Regions from separate parts of the Homo sapiens genome. Here region 2 is linked to region 1. A link means that fine-mapping ties the variant in region 1 to the expression of a gene that starts in the linked region. Tissue or cell type: tibial nerve. Region 1 holds a variant in brackets; the other region holds the start of a gene. All regions are shown on one strand. Distances are from middle to middle. Region 1 overlaps CNKSR3 (CNKSR family member 3). Region 2 holds the start of IPCEF1 (interaction protein for cytohesin exchange factors 1).

What was found.
Region 2: it holds the start of IPCEF1, and the variant in region 1 is fine-mapped to the expression of IPCEF1 in tibial nerve (GTEx, PIP above 0.99). The same link has a PIP of 0.9 or more in esophagus muscle, pancreas, sigmoid colon, sun-exposed skin and unexposed skin.

What each region holds. Positions count from the first base shown.
Region 1 is chr6:154,402,559-154,413,532 of GRCh38, forward strand. It overlaps CNKSR3 (CNKSR family member 3), which reads right to left. Exons shown (of 13, transcript NM_173515.4): 11 at 8,376-8,584; 12 at 7,785-7,874; 13 at 1-4,094. The coding sequence ends at 3,796. Among named protein-coding and RNA genes, the nearest start is that of IPCEF1, 51 kb to the left of the region's middle. The variant C/T (reference allele first, on the strand shown) is at 4,133.
Region 2 is chr6:154,351,942-154,362,915 of GRCh38, forward strand. IPCEF1 (interaction protein for cytohesin exchange factors 1) reads right to left here and starts at 4,862. Exons shown (of 12, transcript NM_001130700.2): 1 at 4,731-4,862. It overlaps LOC105378067 (a long non-coding RNA gene), which reads right to left. Exons shown (of 3, transcript XR_007059823.1): 2 at 10,137-10,974; 3 at 7,952-9,723.

The DNA of each region.
Region 1 (10,974 bases):
TGACTAGCACATAACCTGGGTAACTCCCTCATATGCAAAACGGGACTAACAGCAGTACTCACCTCATAGATTTATTAGAAAGGTATTAGAACAATGCCAGGCACACAGCAAGCACTATATGAGTGAAGCCATTACAGACTAGGTATGCCTAGAACTTTATCTAAAGAATTGGCCACATTTTAGAAAATCATACTGCTGACATCGACCCCTTTCCTGGTATTGAACTGCCAATGCAGCAGGTCTGAATTGGTAACTACCACATTCATGGTGATTTTTCACATATTTATATTTATACACACACATACAAAGTATGTGCCCTGCTTAGTAGTTTAATTACATCTTGTAATATAACCATGCTAGAATATGTACATATGAAAATAATTATTTCATTATAAAATATCTTATCTGTTTCAGTTAGAACGTCACTGATGGGTATGTTTTAGAGGCTAGTTATATTACCTGCTAGTTTCATTTCAGAATAGTAAATGGAGTGATGTTTTTATGAGTGAAGGTAAGCTTCATCATCCATGATTTTCATTTGAAGATTGAAAAGTGATGCTATAAAATATTATAATAGGGGTAGGTGTTGAGTTGTGTCTGGGAGAGTTTTAACAATCACTCTTGTAAAGTATCCTGTCAAGGAGTTCAAGATCAGCCTGGCCAACATGGTGAAACTCCATCTCTACTAAAAATACAAAAATTAGCCAGGTGTGGTGGCGGGCACCTGTAATCCCAGCTACTTGGGAGGCTGAGGCAGGAGAATTGCCTGAACCTGGGAGGCAGAGGCTGCAGTGAGTTGAGATTGTACCACTGCACTCTAGCCTGGGTGACAGAGTGAGAATCTGTCTCAGAAAAAAAAAAAAATTTTTTTTAAAGAAATAAAAATAAAGAATCCTGTCAAAAAGCATCATCAAGCAACTTCATATGTGAACACACGTCCACAATTAAACCTGGATTACTACTGAGGCAAGCAGTTTCCATTAATTTCTAAGAAATCCATATTAAACTATTATTTATGTATGTCCATAGTAGAGGTTTACAAAGGTTTTTTTTTTTTAGCAGCAATATATTTTTCAAACACAATTCAGGAGAAAACCTCAAATAAAAAGAAAGATGAAGCTGTGGAGGGTGACTGCAAGTAGAGGAGCCAGGAACTTCTCTCGCGGGTCCTGGGACTCCAGGGAACAAAGGCTGAAAAGCACCAATCTGGTTGGCCACTGCCTATAATGAAGACTGACTGCCGAATATTCACTTAAAGGATGGCTGTTCAATTCACAAGTGGCATTTTCCCCACAGAAAAAGAGCTCACCAGCCAGCTAAGGCCTCCAGAGTGATTTAACTCATCATCCAGTGGAACTACAGCTCTTAGAGTTCTCCCCACAATCTGGGGAGTAAGAGGAGATGTTGCCACCCACTTCCTGGGCATAAAGCCAGCTCAAGACAAGAGTAAAACAGGCAGGGCTGGCTCGCCCCTCGTACACAGCTCCCTCCTCATCACCAGTGCCCTACACGAGACCTCCCCAGCCCACACCCCACCCTCCTAGTGTGTTGAACACCCTGTGGTCACACACTGCAAGCCTCTTCTCTCCATCTGCCAAACACCCTTGGGTCTCCATGTCTCCATGAAATACCAGATCTTTTTCTTTTTGTTTTTTTTTTGAGACAGAGTCTCCTTCTGTCACCCAGGCTGGAGTGCAGTGGCCTGATCTTGGCTCACTACAACCTCCGCCTCCAGGGTTCAAGTGATTCTCCTGCCTCAGCCTCCCGAGTAGCTGGGACTACAGGTGCCCACCACCATGCGAAGCTGATTTTTAGTAGAGACAGGGTTTCACCATGTTGGCCAGGCTGGTCTTGAACTCCTGACCCCAGGTAATCCACCCACCTTGGCCCCCCAAAGTTCTGGAATTACAGGCATGAGCCACTGCGCCAGGCCGAAATACCAGATCTTCATGGCAGTTGTCTTAGAGGTAGAGAAGAAAACAGCCAGACTGAGCCGGGTGTGGTGGCTCATGCCTGTAATCCCAGCACTTTGGGAGGCTGAGGCCGGCAGATCAGTTGAGGTTGGGAGTTTGAGACCAGCCTGGCCAACGTAGTGAAACCCCGTCTCCACTAAAAATACAAAAATTAGCCAGGCATGGTGGCGGGCACCTATAATCCCAGCTACATGGGAGGCTGAGGCAGGAGAATCGCTTGAACCTGGAAGGTGGAGGTTGCAGTGAGCTGAGATTGCGCCACTGCACTCCAGCCTGGGTGACAGATTGAGACTCCATCTCAAAAACAAACAAACAAACAAAAAAAACCAGCCTGACTGAATTCAGTCACAGTAATTATACATGAGTGGTTGCTAGTTCCTTTAACCACACCAGAAGCATTTTAAAGGGAAGATGTTTCCTAACTCCAGTGATTTTCATGGGCTGAATTCCAGGCAGTTCAGCAAACTCAACAATTCCGGTGGTATGAGAAAGGGCATTTTGGAGTAGGAGATTTCGGCTCTGCCTAGGAAGATACCTCAGAAAATTCCCCTCGTGCAATTTCACTTTGCATATGCTTCTCCTGTTCTTCCATTTCTAATCCATAAAATCCCAAAATGCTTGGGAGGGTTTATTTTGATTTTTTTTAACAATACTGCCCTGCTGGCAACAGCCACGATAGTCACTTGCTCATCTGAAAATGCCTTGCACTTTCTTTTTCACTAGCTTCGTGTATGACGCAAAACAGAAATATTTCAATTACAGGTGACTAAGAGTAAGAAAAATATACAACTATATTTAAAATACTTAAATTAACAAGATAGTACTTTTCCATTCTAACAAAATATCATACATTCAGTTTAAACAAGAGTTAATATCCAGACACACGTTTTCAAAATACCTGATGCTAGTTGAAAATTAGTGACCATGAGGCTTTCCAAGATATTTCTAATTAGCAAACTGTGTACAATTTTGAAGAAGTGTACACACCGTGCTGGAAGACAGACACTGAACAGGTCAAAATGCAAACTCATGTATCTTTCATCAACCTAAATCTTGTTGCTTCACTTTTCTAAATGATACTTTGGCTGTCAGCGAATCTTATAGCTTCTTTTCCCTTAAAGACAATAATATATAACAACACCACCCCACACAAATAACCATAAACTTCTTTGTGTGAAATAAGCCCTATCAAAATGTGTTCATGTATTTCTGTACCAACTGATCTATACTGAGACTGTCATGAAAAAGGTATCAAACAAGTGTAACAGGCCTACACTTAAACCTCTGCCTCAAAGGAGAAATCAGATACTTGCCACGTTATTGCAAAGTCAAAGCTGCTACACTTAAAATATGGTAGATAGTTTAGAAAAATCAAATCAAAAATGTTTTCTCACTGGCTTTTTCAGATAAAGAAGTTGGACCACAAACCAACACATCTGTGTGAAAACAGCCACCAATTTGAGTCCCCCCAGCCCCTCAAAAAGGAACAATGCCACCAGTCCCTCACAATGACCATAACGTCTCTGGCCAGGACTGCGATTTCTAGCGCGTGTCTTCACATTCTATCTCTGGGGAAGCAAGACAAACAGGCTCTACCCATTTCCCTCCTTTTGTCTCCACAAGCCAGCACCTAAGATCCTCTGAATTTGTTCCCATCCAATCCTGCAAACTTCCAAGAAGGGCAGTAGATAACTTTTCAAAAGAAAAAGAAATTGCATAAGGTCCCTACATAATACTGAGGCTGAAACGAGAAGAGGCTGTCCACTGTAAAAGCAAGGCACTTGGGGCAGGAGCCAGGCAGGTGGCCTGAGCAGGGTCCCTCTCAGTGAGTCAACAGTTTGAGGCGCGTAAACCAGCTGACCAGGAGGGACGGTTCTGTGGACGAGGACTTCGTAGCTGAGGAGCCAGATTTCTTTTTGGTCCCTTCCTCCTGGAATGGAATCGTGGCGCTGCTGTGGAGATCTGAGTTGATGTAGCACCTGCTTCCTCGGATGTAGTCCGCACCCCGGACCAGATGCCGCTCGGTCGTGGGTCTGGAGAACCGGTATGGGGGAGAGGAGCTCTCTTCAATGATCGGAGGAATCCGCTCGTTACTGAAATACCGGCAAAGGGCATCCTCCCCTGTTTCCAGACAAAGTCCATTAAGTCACAATCCCAGC[C/T]GGGCGTGGTGGCTCACACCTGTAATCTCCGCACTTTGGGAGGTCGAGGTGGGTGGATCACGAGGTCAAGAGATCTAGACCATCCTGGCCAACATGGTGAAACCCCGTCTCTACTGAAAATACAAAAATTAGCTGGCGTGGTGGCGGGCGCCTGTAGTCCCAGCTACTCAGAGAAACGTTTGAACCCGAGAGGCGGAGGTTGCAGTGAGCCAAGATCGCGCCACTGCACTCCAGGCTGTTGACAGAGCGAGACTCTGTCCCCTCCAGGAAAAAAAAAAAAAAATCACAATCCCCTACACAGTGCTCTTTGGAGGGCCCTCGGCCTGCCCAGACTTCTGCCACCACCCTGAATGTGGGCACCATACCTTTACTGCTCTCCTCCCTGGATTGGCCACAAGGTCCCACCTGTGGCTGGGCCCACCAATGGGTGCTCTGGAAGCAGAAATGGGAAGGGTCCCTCATACTTTAGGCTGCTTTAGCGCCTGAGAGGTAGCACACGGGTCTCCTTTAGTGGGTGGGGACCATAGAGTGTAGTGTCCCCGCGATGGCTGAACAGAACTGTTTATGCATTGTTTAATGCAGGGCATTCAAGCTGGGCATTCAGGAACATTCCCGAACAAGGAAAAGAGTGATCCTGCCCTAACTGCCAGCAGACCCCCTGGGATGTGGCTGGAATGTTAAGAAACTGAATAGAAACTTAAAATACAGTACACTTTGGTAACATGTAGCATCCTTGTGAAGCGGAAATTCTACACCCCAAAATGTGCAAAGATCTATGGACTCACGGATGCTTACTGAAACATTTATTTTTATGCTTATTTTTATTTTTTGAGACAGGGTCTCACTGTCATTCAGGCTGGAGTACAGTGGTGCCATCTCAGCTAGTTGCAGCCTCCATCTCCCAGGCTCAAGCGATCCTCCCACCTCAGCCTCCCAAGTAGCTGGGACTACAGGTGCGCACAACCACACCCAGCCGGTCTCGAAATCCTGAGACCAAGCAATCCACCTGCCTCAGCATCCCAAAGTGTTGGGATTAGAGGCATGAGCCACCACACCTAGCCTACTGAAACCTTTTTCAAATTTTAGAATTTGAATTTTAGAATTTTCTAAATTTTCTAAATTCTAAGTTTTCTAAATTTTAGAATTTAGAAAATTTTAGCCTTTTTCAAATTTTAGAATTTGAAAAAAAAAAAAAAAAAAAAAAACCTAAATTTCCAACAGTGGCACGTTGAATAAATAGGCGCTAGAGCCATAAGATGGCATTCTAATACGGCTATATTCTTTTCAAATATGGTGTAGATAATATTCATTTTTACATAGTATTATTGAATATTTACTTCTCCCCTTTTTTTGAGACGGAGTCTCACTCTGTTGCCCAGGCTGGAGTGCAATGGAGAGGTCTGGGCTCACTGAAACCTCCGCCTCCCAGGTTCAAGAGATTCTCCTGCCTCAGCCTCCCGAATAGCTGAGACTACAGGCGCCCACCACCACACCTGGCCAATTTTTGTATTTTTAGTAGAGACGGGGTTTCACCATGTTGGCCAGGCTGGTCTCGAACTGCTGACCTCGTGATCCGCCTGCCTTGGCCTCCCAAAGTGCTGGGATTACAGGTGTGAGCCACCGCACCTGGCCAACTTCTCCCATTTTGCACATTTTTCTAAGTATATAAATGTAAATACAGGAACAACTGGAAATCACACGAAACATTCACAGTGATTATTTCTTAGGTCAGAGAAACAGATTCCAGCTGAGTTTTATTTTCTCATGCCTTCCATGTTTTTCAATGTACTTGCTTTGCTTTTGTAATGAAAGGGGAACAGTCACATTGAAAAAGTGCCCATTGTCAAAAAGCCACATGTTGCATAAGTCTATTTATATGAAATGTCCAGAACAGGCAAATCCACAGAGTAGATGAGTGCCTGTCAGGGGCTGAAGAAGGACGGAATTGGGAGTGACTGCTAAAAGGCACAAGGTTTCTTTTTGGAGTGACAAAAATGTTCTGGAATAGTGGCAACTGGGGTACAACTCCGTGAATATACTAAAACCCACCTGACTGTATATTTTAAAAAGCTGAATTTCATGCAAAGAGTTATATCTCAATAAAACTGTTATTTTTTTAAGTGGCTGTGTATAGATAGATACCTTTATTCCAAAACAATCATGCAAGAAAAATATGCAAGGAGGAGTGGAGGGAACAAGTATTTTTCCATTTCCCAATTTCACACCCCATAACCCTGACACTTCATCTCTCCATGTATAAAATAAATAAAAGGCTCAACCCTGGCTCAGATGAACGGCAAGGAAGATGTTAACGTGTCTAAATCTAAACAACGGACAGCCCTGCCACCTGCTGACTGCTCCATGGATACTCACACGTTAACTAAGGGGATCCTGAATGGTAGGTACCCAGGCATCTTTCCCTTTTTCACTTTAGCATAATACAGGTGATATGGGTACTTAGGTGACAAACTTTACCAAGTCCCTAGAAAGGGTCAGGGGTCAATCAATCCCTTTGGAAGGTTAGGCTTCCAGAATTTTTTCTTCTTCCTTTTACTATCTAAAGCCTATTGTACTTTAACTTTTCAACTGCCCTTTGTTTCAACAACTGCAAAAACAATGTTATAATGTTCTGCCAATGATGACAATCAAATGCAATCTGGCAATAAAATGAGAATGTTTTAAAACATTTCACTCAAGACCAGCATAATAACCAGGGACTTTGATTACAGGGTGAATTAAACACAAATTTCTTTTCAAATAGTAACTGCCTTCTAACATAAGAAGGACTTGGAAGAAAAAAAAATCCATGTTTGTTCATCAGAAATCAAACAGACTCCAAAAATAAAAGCAACAAAATTTAGAATAAGATTGTTTAATGAAAGCTGGGCATGGTGGCACACGTCTGTAACACCAGCTATTCAGGAAGCTGAAGTGGGAGGATCACTTGAACCCAGGAGTTCAAGGCCAGCCTGGGCAACATAGTAAGACCCCATCTCAATTTTTAAAAATAAATTTTGAAAAAGATTGTTTAATGAATAATTTATTTCTATTCATTAAAAAATTAGACTATTGGCTGGGTATGGTGGCACATCCCCGTAATTCCAGCACTTTGGGAGGCTGAGGCAGGAAGACCACTTACAGCTAGGAGTTTGAGACCAGCCTGGACAACATATTGAGACTCTGTCTCTACCAAAAAAAAAAAAAAAATTAGCCAGCCGTGGTGGCGTGCACCTGTAGTCCCTGCTACTCAGGAGGCTGAGGCAGGAGGATCACTTGAGTCCAGGAGCTCAAGGCTGTAGTGAGGTATGATCACGCCACTGCACTCCAGCCTGTGTAACAGAGCAAGATCCTGTCTCTAAAAAGTAAATGAATAAAAATTAGACCATTAAAGTCTATAGCCTTTTTACAGCACTCAATGCTAATTAGGATATTTACAATCACTAACTAGGATTATATAATTTTGCCATTCTAGAAATAAGTAGGATCTTAAAGATCTTCAGCAGTCCTAATTTTACAGATGAGAAAACGGGACTCAGAAAGGCCAAGTACTCAGTCTACTTATTATAACACATTTAGAAACAGAGGTGAAACCAGGCCCTGGGGCTGTTCACTCCCCATTTGCTGTTCCTTGGTTTGCTTGGATGAAACGTACCTTTCCTGCCATGACCTCGAGGTCTGGCAAAAGGGTCCACAATCCCCATCCAGTTCCCATCAGCAGGCATGGACAAAGGCCGTGGCTTGCCTTCAGAGGGACGAGAAAGAAGGTGACAAGTTTGATGAGTTCTGGAACTTTAGTGAACCGTTCCCTTTATGTATAACTTAGACCTCACAATACCACACCCACTTAGACAGAAGCAATAACAAATTTTAAAATAAAAGTATTTTAAAGCACTGTATTTCCATAGCAGGAAATAGAGTGCTACTAAGATAGAGGCACATTAAACTTGAGCCTGTGAGTCTACAGAGCAAAGCAACTCCAAAGCTAAAACCCAGGCACTGAAAGTTAAAACTGTAACATGATCTCACCCAGTTGGGCTTTCATGCCAGGCAGAGTAATGACTCAACAAGGATCCGCTTGACAGAGATGAATAAAGGTCTCATACTTAGAATTTCATTGAGGTTTATGTTTTCCTCAGATTACTCTTGAAGTCTGCCAAATTCATCCAACAGTTCCAACTAAGGCAGGGGGCGGGGAGGAGAAGTCAAGGCCAACGGCAGAACAAAACAAACACTTGAAACTTACCATAAGATGGTGTTTTCTCTCTCATTTTTGTGGGCAGAATGTTGGTTTCCACCGAGTACCCAGGCAACTGATCCGAGTCTGCAATGGTGAATCTTCGTCTCCGGCTTTCCTGGTCCAAGAAGGAATTCGGGGACTCTGAACCCTTAGGACCAGGCAATGGTTGTTTGCACTTACTGGACCCTCCATAAACAAAACTGCCATTCTCATCCCTGGAAGATAATATGGACAATAATTAAGTTGTTTACAAAGATGTTCTCATACTGAAGAATTCCAGCAGTGCTGCTACCTCCAGCACACAGAAGATAATTTAAATTCTCCTTTTCCACTGGAGGAAAAGCATTCCTTTTGTCAACCCCAGTTGCCGCTCAAATACATACAGATCCTATTAAATAAGCAAAATACCATGACGTGATGAAATAAGAATAAATGCAGGCCGGACACAGCGGCTCCCGCCTGTAATCCCAGCACTTTGGGAGGCCAAGGCAGGTGGATCACCTGAGGTCAGGAGTTCAAGACCAGCCTGACAAACAAGGTGAAACCCCATCTCTACTAAAAATACAAAAATTAGCCAGGTGTGGTGGCAGGAGCTACTTGGGAGACTGAGGCAGGAGAAGTGCTTGAACCCAGGAGGCGGAGGTTACAGTGAGCTGAGATCATGCCACTGCACTCCAGCCTGGGCAATGGAGCGAGACTCCATCTCAAAAAAAAAAAAAAAAAAAAAGAAGAGTAAATGCAGGGTTTTTTTTAATATCCAAACAAATATAGCTTTGAAAAGACAGCTCTAGTTTTCCTGTGCTTCTGTGTGTAGCTGAATATCCTATTTACTACAGCAATCACACATTAAGGTATGCTCTAGCGAACCACGTTGCTCATGCCAAGAGTCGGATCTCTGCCAAAATCCAGCAAAAAAGACTTGATATATTATGAAGTTGTTAGATTTGAAAACCATGTCAAAAGATACAAAGGAACCTTTATAGTAACCAATGGAGAGTGATTCTTTTCTGAATCAAATACTACAAAAACCAGCAAAAGTTGGATCACTGATTCCATTCTAATTCTATCTACATGTCAGTTTAAACTGTAGGATTAATTTGAGTCCAAGTTACCAGCTGCTTAGTTTTTTTGCACTTGGTAAATTCCATTAGGCAAATCAGGACAAAAACTGCTAGACAAAATACAGAATCAACTGAGTCCCAAAGCAATCTACTAATCAGCCATGTCTGTGTGTGGTATTCCCAGGTGGGATGGCATCCACCTACCCCTCCCACCCACAAATATATCTCCTTCCATACCTTTAAACCGGGCATATAACTCCCCATTCACAAAGCTTTCATGACTCATGACTTGTTTCTCAGTAATCCATTCCCATTTTTCATTCCTCAGAAAATCCTTCATGAGTGGTGTGTGTGCACTCTCAAAAGCGTCTTCCCGAGCAGTTTAATCCAGCTCTCCTCCTAGCCCCAGGTTCCTTTATCTCTCACTATGTACACAGCACCCCTTTTCTTGCCACTACTCCAGGAACCCAGACAAGAATATTCTGGATCAAGGGAGGGTGCCTTCCTCCAGTTTCTGATAGAACAATCCACACATTAGTAGTGGAATGTCATGCTCTCTATATGCAGAGGGAAAGACTACCTGTAACTTTAAACACACTTAAGATCCTGCAAACCAGAATGCCCCGATCACCTGAGGTACATTCTCTACACGCTATAATAAGTTCTGAGTAAGCCAAGACTCAAGGAAATGGAAAACAATGTTGAATCTCTGCACCCAATGCAGAAGAAATACAATGAAGCAAATACCTCAGCTTCAAATGAAAACCAACAAACAAAAAATTCTGATAGAAAGTAAAATGTCACTGTAATAAAATCCAGCCTGAACTTTGTTTTATGAAATATTATAACCTAATCATATATTTCTCAATATATGCTTGAATTGTTGAATAAGACCCTGGCAGTTCTGTAGGGTCAAAGACCGAGTCTGTTTTGTGTCAGAGGGTAACCCAGACCCAATACTCAGGAAAGATATGCTGAATAAATGAGCCAGATTGTCTAGTTTTATCAACATATATAAATATGTGAGTTGATAAAAATAAGCCTAGATCACACCTAAATCATCCTGTACACTCTATATACCACCCTCATTATACCATACAGTATTCAAGTTAGCCATGAAGAAAGCAACTATCTTTTTAAGAATTTATGGTACACACACACACACACACACACACACACACACACACAAATATGAAATGTTCATACCTACACTCACAAGGTCTGAGTTTTTCTGTTTTTTGTTTTTTTGTTTTTGAGACTAGGTCTCACTCTGTTGTCCAGGCTGGAGTGCAGTGGTATGATCATGGTGTATTGTACTGCAGCCTCGACCTCCTGGGCTCCAGTGATCCTACCACCTCAGCCTCCTGAGTAGCTAGGACCACGGGTGCACACAACCACACCCAGCTAATTTTTTAAATTTTTTGTAGAGATGGGGCCTCACTATATTCCCCAGGCTGGTCTTGAACTTCTGGGCTCAAGCAATCCTCTGAACTGGCCTTCCAAAGTGCTGGAAATATTGGCGTGAGACACCATACCTGGCCACA
Region 2 (10,974 bases), 51 kb before region 1:
TGGACATAGGGAGCGGAAAAACACACACTGAGGCCTGTGAGGGCCGGGGGAGAGGGAGAGCATCAGGAAGAATAAGCTAATGGATGCTGGGCTTCACACCTAGGTGATGAGTTGATCTATGCAGCAAACCACCATGGCACACATTTACCTATGTAACAAACCTGCATATCCTGCACATGCACACTGGAACGTAAAGTAAAAGTTGAAGAAAAAAAAAAAGAAATTGTAAATGTAACTAAATGTAAATGTAAACTAAAAGGTAAAAATAAAAGTGCAGATCACAGTGTCTAGAACCTAGCAAGTGCTCAGTAATATCATTGGTTTTTTATTCAGCATTCCACGTATGAAATATTCAGAAAATGCTATAGAATCTGTTGGGAATCCTATCTTGCTGCTGTTTCTATTTCAATGCTTAGTGCATGCTGGGTTTTTGTTTCTTCAATTAATTCTTTCATTTCTAACTTGACTTAGTTTTCCTTGACGATCTGGTCATTTTTTTATTCAGACTTCTTTTGAAAGACTCATCCACATTCTAGTAACTTTGGGCTGAGTTTAAGCTGGCTCACTTTTCACCTTTCAGCTGCTTCTATGTCAATCCCTGTGTCAGTCTGGGAGACCTGTCTTTGCTCACATTTGTTCAGCCCTTTGCCTTTTTGTCTGCCGACTATCTCTCCTTTCTAAGACAAAGATTGATTCTAAGACAAAGACAGAAGATTCTTTTCAATGCCTACAAGCCAAAATATTTTATTTTGGTTACGTCCCTGATAAGGGACTCCATGGTGACCTGCTGGCCCTGTGAGACGGCAGGGCCAAGATTCTAACAACAGGAATGATAATTCTTGAATCTATAAAATAATCTGTGACTCTATAGAAATGTTTTTATGACCTCTCCCTATGAGTACCAAGATGATAAACATATGGCAACATTCCCTAAGAAATGTATTAACAATTATATTGGGAGATTTAAATTTAACTTATAATTAATAACTGACAAATTGACTATTGCATTTTTTAGGAAATCATCAAACTCAGGTTTAGACGCAGTTATAAGTCATCCAGAGAAAATAACCCATTTTCATGTCATTCTAGGAATTAATCAGACCAGCCAGCCCCAGTGGGACCACGTTTCCTTTTTCTCACTTCAGAGTTGACACATGATTCTGCACCAGCCTTACTCTCAAAGGGGATTTCCCTACAAAGACTAAATAACATAAATTTTAAGTGTCATTTCTTAGACTGCAATGAACCATGAACTTCAGCACACTATCACTAAAACATTGCTTTTGTCGTCCTGTTGGTGGAAGATTTAAGGAGGGTTACATTTTTGTCCATTTCTTTTCTTTTCCTTTTCCTTTTTTTTTTTTTTTTTTTTGAGATGAAGTCTCCCTCATTGCCCAGGCTGGAGTGCAGCTGCGTGATCTCGGCTCACTGCGCCTCCCGGATTCAAGTGGTTCTTGTGCCTCAGCCTCTTGAGTAGCTGGGATTACGTGCGCCCGCACCATGCCCAGCTAATTTTTGTATTTTTGGTAGAAACAGGGTTTCGCCATGTTGGCCAGAGTGGTTTGGAACTCCTGACCTCAGGTGATCCGCCCGCCTTGGCCTCCCAAAGTCCTGGGATTACAGGCATGAGAGCCACCGCACCCGGGCCTATTTACTTTCTTTCAACGTTTGTTTTATTTTCAGATTATTAAAATAGTTCAGGTATGTTCCACTAATGAAAAATCTGGGAAGAAAATAGAGTACAAAGTACAAAGAAAGAAGAACCACGAGCTATAAGCCCACTACTCATATATTAACATTTTAATGCATTTCACCCAAATCTTGCTTCTCTGCAGTATTTTTACATAGTTGAAAAAGTTATGTTCCTCCTTTTTGGACTTAGCATTACATCATGAGACTATTTCCATAAATATCATTTTCTTGATGACATTTCTTTATATACCACCATGTGTTCAACCATTCTGATAACTAGGCTTATCATATTTATTTTAAATTAATGATTCTTTTAAAAACTCACTTTCACTTTACAAAATTCAGAAAATGCACAAAGCATAAAGAAAAAAAGAGAAATTAGAGATTAAATTTTTAAGCGTGGCTCTGGCAACTTGAAAACTGATATCGATAACTGCCATTTAATGCAATCATATTTTTAACCCTCACACAACAACCCAAAAAGTCAATATGTTATAGTCACCACTTTATAGGTTCGGAGGTCACAGAGCTGGTAGGTTCAGAGATATAGATTTTGAACAGATATGTCTGAGCCCCCAACTGTGTTTTCTCTTGGCTAAATTATACTGACCTTCCCATGATTACCTCCACCATTACCTCTACTACCATCACCTCCAACCACCATCTCCGCCATCTGTACCATCACCTCTACCATCACTTCCTCAACCATCTCCACCATGTCTACCATCACTTCTACCATCTGTCACCTCCACCGTCACCTCCAACCACCATCTCCACCACCACCTCCACCACCACCTCCACCATCTCCTCCACCACCACCTCCACCATCTCCTCCACAACCACCTCCACCATCTCTACCGTCACTTCCACCATCACCTCTACCACTCCAATCACCATTTCTACCATCTCCATTACCACCTCCACCATCGCCTCCACAACCACCTCTACCATCTCCACCGTCACTTCCACCATCACCTCCCCTACGACCACCACTTCCAACACCACCCCCTTTATCTCCACCTCCACCTCCACCACCATGTATCGCCAACCCTTTCACTTTACTGACCTGGGGATTTTTCTGATCCCCGTTCTACACACCCTTTCTTTACTCCACACCTTCATATTCTCCTCTCCTCCTCCACTCTGATCTTTTCTAACATTCACTTTTTAAAGTGCCTGAGTAACAGAGATAAAGCAATGGCTTTCCTACCACATTCATTTTATGAATTATGCCAGTTATTCATTCATTCAACAAATATTTACTGAGAGCAGGCACTGTTCTGAGCACTTGGGAGCACAAGTAACTCCTCCATTTGCAGGATTCTCTTTAAGGCTAAAAAGCTTATTTTTTAGGATTTTTCTTCACACACACACACACACACACACACACACACACACACACACACACACACCATTTGCCACATTAGACCTACTTGCAAATTGTTAACCTGTACTGCAATTATCAGCTCACACTGCAGAGCCTCCAAGCTGGATGGAAAGCAGAAGTGAGCTGTTCAAAAGGATGCACGAGTCAAAAGGAAAGTCTCAGGCAATAGTGATGAAGTAATTTCTTATCTCTTATTGCCACAGCAAACTACCGCAGGAAAGAACTTCCTATTTCCATACTCTGATGATGTATATTTGCTTAACACAGCTTGCCTGAAATAGTTCATACATGGACCCACTCCAGAAAAGACACTTGATTTATAAAAAGAGGAATGGAAGGAAATTATAAGGTAAATTAAAGAATGAGTTCATCAACACATACACAAACTTACACCCTTTTCTTCCTTGCTTGCATGATGTGAGCAGAAAGAAATGTGTGTTCTTTCCATTTCTGTTTCTTTTCTTTCTTTCTTTCTTTTTTTTTTTTGAGATGAACTCTTGCTCTGTCACCCAGGCTGAAGTGCAGTGGCGCAATCTCAGCTCACTGCAACCTCCGCTTCCCGGGTTCAAGCAATTCTCCTGCCTCAGCTTCCCAGGTAGCTGGGATTACAGGTGCATGCTCCCACGCCCAGTTAATTTTTGTATTTTTAGTAGAGACGGGGTTTCATCATGTTGGCCAGGCTGGTCTCGAACTCCTGACCTCAGATGATCCACCCGCCTTGGGCTCCCAAAGTGCTGGGATTACAAGCGTGAGCCACCGCACCCGGCATTCTATTTTCTATTTTCTTTTCTTTCTTTTTTTTTTTCTTCCTGTAGAGATGAGGTCTCATTATTTTGCCCCCAGGCTGGTCTCAAACTCCTGACCTCAAGTGATCCTCTCGCCGTGGTCACCCAAAGTACTGGGATTACAGGTGTGAGCCATTGTGCCCAGCCCTCGGTTTCAATTTTCTACATAAAATAAATAACTCGATAGAAATTAGACTTTATCAAGGACAGCACTAGGAACACATAGGCCACTCAAGACTAATAGAGCCCACTGCTGTAGTCAAAGATGCTTCAGTGGGTTATAATTCTGACTTCTATAATTAAATACTTTCACATATACCCCAGCAAAGAAAAATCAAGTGCCCCAGACACCCTTACTAAAAGACTCTGAACCAACAACACCTAGCTTTCATTTTTATACCAGAGATATTTTGGCAAGCCTGAGACCTTTATCAAAGTGTAAAATGTCCCCCAGCTGCCTCCATGCAAAGGAAGCTCCCTTGCAAAGAACACACTTTCTCGAAAGAGGGCGGCCCCAGAGTGCTTCCCCAAATGAACTCCTCAGGACCCAAATACATGCTGAATTGTGCTTTTCTAAATCAAACCTGTGGTCTGCAGTCTAAACACCTATCAAGACAACACCCATTTAAGAAACATAAAAGCAGAGTGAGTACACAACTCTCTCCTCTTTCAAAGCTTTCACAGAATTAAAGAATCTTTAGCACCTGGCTTCCCAGATTACAGAGAGCTGAGTGAATATTACATCCCCAAAGTCATATTTCCTACCTCACTACTCTAAGGAGAGTGCTAGGGTATCCATTGCTTTGCCATCTTGATCTGTCAAGCAGTTACCTCTCATACATCAGCCAAGAAGTGACGTTACTTACATGCAATACAAAGAGAGTAAATCCAAGAGCAGTCTTATTCCTGGATTCAGAAGCCTCATAGTACTCTGAGGCCAAGCTTGAGGATTCTACTTAAAGCAGCCTCAGCTCTGGAAACTCAGTCAACCCAGAACTAACATTCAAAGCTGATCAGAGAGTAAAGCTCTTTCGAAAGAAGAGGAAGTATCATCTCCACTTCCTCAATCCTAACGTTCTTCCTTCTCATTGTTATGAAACCCTTCCTTGATGCCCATATCCAGGACACAGTACATGTAAGGCAAGCACACCCCATCTGCCTGAGTTCATTGATCACTAAGCACTGCCCAGTGTATTCATTTGCCGAGCACATTGGTGGAACAGTTCATGGTTCTGCTTTCCTGTTTTGGAGGCAAGGATGTTCATTTACAGGCATGGAGGGTGAGATGATCTGCAGAGTCATTCTCAGCATTTTTGGGTGAAATGCCACTTCAACCTCTTTAGGTTCAATCTTCTTTCAGATTTCCCTCTTTCCTCCTTTCCTAATCGTTCATAATGCTCTAATAAAGAGAGGGTACAGACACATTTGTAAAACGTATTTTAGGATAAAAATAAGTCTTAGCCTGCCATCTTTTGCAGTAGACATAGAAGAGTCTCTAACCACAAAACTTTTCTTTCCCACATTGGAAAAGGAAAATGGCAGGCTGAAAGTCAGAGATATTCCATCTCATTACAAATTCCTGCCCTCCCAATCTCCCTTTCAACACCAGCTTCTTGTTTCTCTATACCTTCTAGGGAAATGAATACAGCTGGGCGTGGTGGCAGATGCCTGTAATCCCAACCACTCAGGAGGCTGAGGCAGGAGAATTGCTTGAACCTGGGAGGCAGAGGTTGCAGTGAGCCGAGATCGCACCACTGAACTCCAGACTAGGAGACAGAGCAAGACTCCAACTCAAAATAAATAAATAAATAAATATGTATGTGTATATATATATATAATATATATATATAATATATATATTATATATATATTATATATATATTATATATAATATATATATTATATATATATTATATATATAATATATATATTATATATATTATATATATATAATATATAAAATATATATATTATATATATAAAATATATATAATATATATAATATATATATAAAATATATATAATATATATAATATATATATAAAATATATATATAAAATATATATATATATAAAATATATATATATAATATATATATAAAATATATATATATAATATATATATAAAATATATATATATAATATATATATAAAATATATATATATATATATATATATATATATAGAATATATAGAATATATAGAAACCTAATCCCCAATGTGATTGTATTTAGAGGTGGACCTTTGGGGAGTGATTAGGTCATGAGGACAGTGCCCTCATGAATGGTATTAATTTTCTTATTAAAGAGAACCTGGAGATCTGCCCACCCCTCCACCATATGAGGACATGGCCAGAAGACAGTCACCTAGGAACGAGGAAGCAGGTCCTCACCAGACAATGAATCTGCTGGCGCCTTGATCTTGGATGTCCAGCCTCCAGAACTGTGAGAAATAAATGTCTTTTGTTTGTAAGCCACCCAGGCTACGGTGTTTTGATATAACAGCCTGAATGACTAAGACAAAGATAAAATGTAAACTAAATCTGTGGAGGAGTGAAAAAATGAAAGAAGATGCTGTACATTTTGAGCAGGAACAAAATGAAGGTTCTCTCAGCGGCTTCTTGTTTGTGTACACTTCTATTTCTGGAAGTGCTGCCTCATCTTCTCCCTATATTGAGTTGTCTTCTAGTTCCCTGCTTTACGTAGAAAAAAAAATGGTACTAGGTGATATTAAAGGAATTTAGTGGTATCAACAGCATGGCCTGGCTTCTCACCAGACATTTAGATGCCATCATCAAAGATATCCTCAAAAGACATGTTATTTACCTTTATGGGGCCAGAATAGAGCCACTTAAATTCTTTGAGCAAAGATGATTTGTAGAATTAGAATAATCCTCAAAACGGCCGGACTGTCAGTTCAAGATGACGGGCTGACCACAGATTTGCTCCCTCCCTCCCCAAAGACTCCGTTAAAATGAGAAAAGTATAAAAAGTTTATAGGGCCGGGCACGGTGGCTCACACCTGTAATCCCAACACTTTGGGAGCCCCAGGCTGGCAGATCATGAGGTCAGGAGATCGAGACCATCCTGGCTAACATGGTGAAACCTGTCTCTACTAAAAATACAAAAAATTAGCCACGCCTGGTGGCACGAGCCTGTAATCCCAGCTTCTCAGAAGGCTGAGGCAGGAGAATCGTTTGAACCTGGGAGGCGGAGGTTGCAGTGACCTGAGATCGCGCCACTGCACTCCAGCCTGGGTGACAGAGCGAGATTCCGTCTCAAAAGAAAAAAAAAGATATAAACCCACAATAACCCAAAAAAGGAGGAAAAGCATCAGAACTTGGGAGAGCACAACAGATTTCTGGCAGCCTGAAAGCCGATGGAGGAGCAATAACAGATGGAGGCAGGCAGGGGAACCACAATATCTCATTAGTTAGGAGAACACGGCGTTGGAGGAAATTGCCCGTGTGCGGTGCTGAATCCCTGAGAGGACCGGAACTCAAGCCAAAAGAAGCTAAGAGAGCTAAATGAGTGATAGGGTGACAGGACTGAAAACAGGAAGAGTAATTCAAAGTCTGTAAGAACTCAGCCCCTCCCATACCCCTCTTTCAAATCTCTCTGTCCGCCCAGCCTCTGCACAGCAAACACACACAATTCCAACCCCGGGCAGCATACCGAGGATTCGTCTCTACACATAGTGAAATCATGCAGAGAATACAGGCATTGTATGTGGATATGAGCACTCCACAGTCAGAACTCCACATTCTGGCAATAAGAGCCTCATCTAGCATGTGCTGGATGATGGATGATGTGCTTTTTTTTTTTTTTTTTTTTTTGAGACAGAGTCTTGCTCTGTCACCCAGGCTGGAGTGCAGTGGCATTAATTATCTCGGCTCACTGCAACCTCCGCCTCCAGGGTTCAAGTGATTCTCCTGCCTCAGCCTCCTGAGTAGCCAGGATTACAGATATGTGCCACCACACCCAGCTATGTTTTGTATTTTTAGTAGAGACAGTGTTTCACCATGCCGGCCAGACTGGTCTCAAACTCCTGACCTCAGGTGATCTGTGCACCTTGGCCTCCCAAAGTGATGGGATTACAGGCATGAGTCACCACGCCTGGCCTAGATATGCTTCTAATCAGTATCCTTAGAGACAGTCCTGAAGATATTGTATCCATTAAAAAGAACAGGATGCTAAGAAAGATAGATAATCTGAAAACAAGAAAGACCCCTTGGATATTGCAAATATAATTGTTAAATAAAGATTTTGATAGGTTGGGTGATAAATTCAAGTGAAATTTTCAGGAAATATTATTTGATGACATAGTCAAAGAAATAACATAAAGGATCCCCCTGAAGTCCAAGAATATTTAGATTAAAAAGTCTCATCGAGTGCCTAGGATGAAGAATTTCAAGTCACTGCAAAATTTCCAAACTCCGGAAATAAAGAGAAAATCTTAAAATCTCCCAAACACAGAAAATAAGTCACTTTCACAGAAACAAGGAATCAAAGGGCTCCAGATTTCACAGAAGTAGCATTAAGGGTTAGAAGGTCAGCGAGCACAGCCTTCAAAGTTCTGAAGGATTTATATTTCACTCTAGAATTTTGTGTTCATTCATCCAGTGTATTAGTCCATTTTCATACTGCCATAAAGAACTGCCAGAGACTGGGTAATTTCTAAAGGAAAGAGGTTTAATTGACTCTTATAAATTAAAGAGGTTTAATTCAGCATGGCTAGGGAGGCCTCAGGAAACTTACAATCACAGTGGAAGGTGAAGGGAAGCAAGGCGCCTTCTTCACAAGGTGGCAGGAAAGAGAAGTGCTGAGTAATGGGGTAAGAGCCCCTTATAAAACCATCAGATCTCATGAGAACTCACTCTCACAAGAACAGCATGGGGGAAACCACCCCCATGATTCAATTTCCTCTACCTGGTGTCTCCCTTGACACATGGAGATTATGGGGATTACAATTCAAGACGAGGTTTGGGTGGGGACACAAAGCCTAGCCATAGCATTCAGCAAATATTTTTGAGCACTGTGTCTAGGCAGTGAGGACGCAGCAGTGAACCAAATAAAGTCCTGCCCTCAGGGAACTTCTTTTCTCATGCTCAGATCAGGATGGTGTACTCTCTACACAAACAAAGAAAGTAAAATATAATGTGTTAGGTAGAAGTAAGTGCTAAGGAGGAAAAATAAATCAGCAGAGGAAATATATAGAGTCTAAGGAGAGGCTAAAAATTAGATGGGGAGGCCAGCAAAGGACTCACAAAGGTGACCTCTGAGTGACAGCCTGGAGGAAGTGAAGGCGTGAGCTGTGTAGACAGCTAAGGGAAGAGAAATCCGCAGACAGAGCCCCAAATGCAAACATCCTGCCACCCCCAGAGCCTTTTGGTGCCGCAGGAACAGCATGGGGGCAGGTGTGGCTGGAACAGAGCAGAGCGGGTCAGAGATGGAGAGGGGAGCCGGGGAACCCATGATTATGGTTAGGTCCTATGGGGATCGTTGTGAGAACTTGGGTTTTTGACTCTGACCAACTAAACCAGGAGCTGACAAACTATTTCTGGAACAGGCCAGATAGTAAATATTTTAGATTTCGTGGGCCAATCTCTGTTCAATTACTCAACCCTGCCATTGTGGTATCAAAGCAGCCATAGATAACATGTAAAAGAGCAGCTGTGCTCTAATAAAACTTTATCTAGGGCCACTAACATTTGAACTGCCTATAATTTTCACGCATCACAAAATCTTCTTCTTTTGATTTTTTTAAGCACCTAAAAATGTAAAAAACTGTCATAACTTACCAGCTGTGCAAAAATAGGCAGCAAGCCAAAAGCGGCCCGTGGAAAGTAGGTTGCTGATCCCTGAATGAAACCATCAATTAGGTGTGAAGGTAGAACATGCCCGTTTTCAGATATATCAGAGCTGACTCAGAAGGCTGACTGCCCACAAATCCTTTCTTTTTTTTTTTTTAATTTTTATTTTTTGAGACAGAGTCTTGCTCTGTTGCCCAGGCTGGAGTGCAGTGGCATGATCTCACCTCACTGCAACCTTTGCCCCCCAGGTTCAGCGATTCTCCTGCCTCAGCCTCCCAAGTAGCTGAGATTACAGGCGCCTGCCATCACGCCTGGCTAATTTTTGTATTTTTAGTAGAGACAGGGTATTACCATGTTAGCCAGGCTGGTCTCGCACTCCCAACCTTTAGTGATCCCCCCATCTCGGCCTCCCAAAGTGCTGGGATTACAGGCATGAGCCACTGCACCCAGCCTCCACATACCTTCTTAGGAAGTTACTTGATGATGGACCCCAGCAAAATAAGGGAGTAAACTAAAAAATGGAAGTGGTGGAATCCGGGAAACAGAAGACTCAACCTGGGAGCGTTGCAAAGGGAAATCCTTGGATGGGAATCAGGCAGCTGAACCACACAGCAAACATCAGCATGGAGCTCGGTAAGAGAGGAAAAGTTTCCAAAAGCAAAGTATTCAGGGGAAAATGGAATCACAGAGCGTGATACCACCCCTGAAATTATGGAGTAACCAATATGGGCAGCGCAGCCAAAGAAAGAAAAATAGAAAAACAATTAGAAAACATCAAGAAATAACAATAAAAGCAGTAAAGGAACAGAATGGAATTACTCTATACTGTTCGGCTTGTGAAGTTAAGGATAATTTTTACAGGCATAATAATGCAATACTCACAACTGATTTTCAATTTTGAGGATCAAGATCTGGAGAAAACATGTAAAACAAGAAGATACTGTAAGTGGCAGAGTGTGGTGGCTCGCACCCGTAATCCCATCTTTGGGAGGCTGAGGCAAGAGGACTGCTTTAGCCCAGGAGTTCAAGCCAAGAATGGGCAACAAAGGGAGACACTGTCTCTGTGTATATTTTAAAGAAAAAAAAAGAGAAAAGATTAAGACAATATAAATGTTAAAGTATGCTGGACTCTGATGGCAGCCACTAGCTACTAAAAATTAAGCTTTAGCTAATTAGAATAAAGTAAAATAAAAATTAAGTAAAAAAAATTAAGTAAAATAAAAATTAAGTAAAAAAAATTTCGGTTCCTTGGTTGCACCAGCCACAGTTCGAGTGCTCAGTAGCCACTGGTGTCCAGAA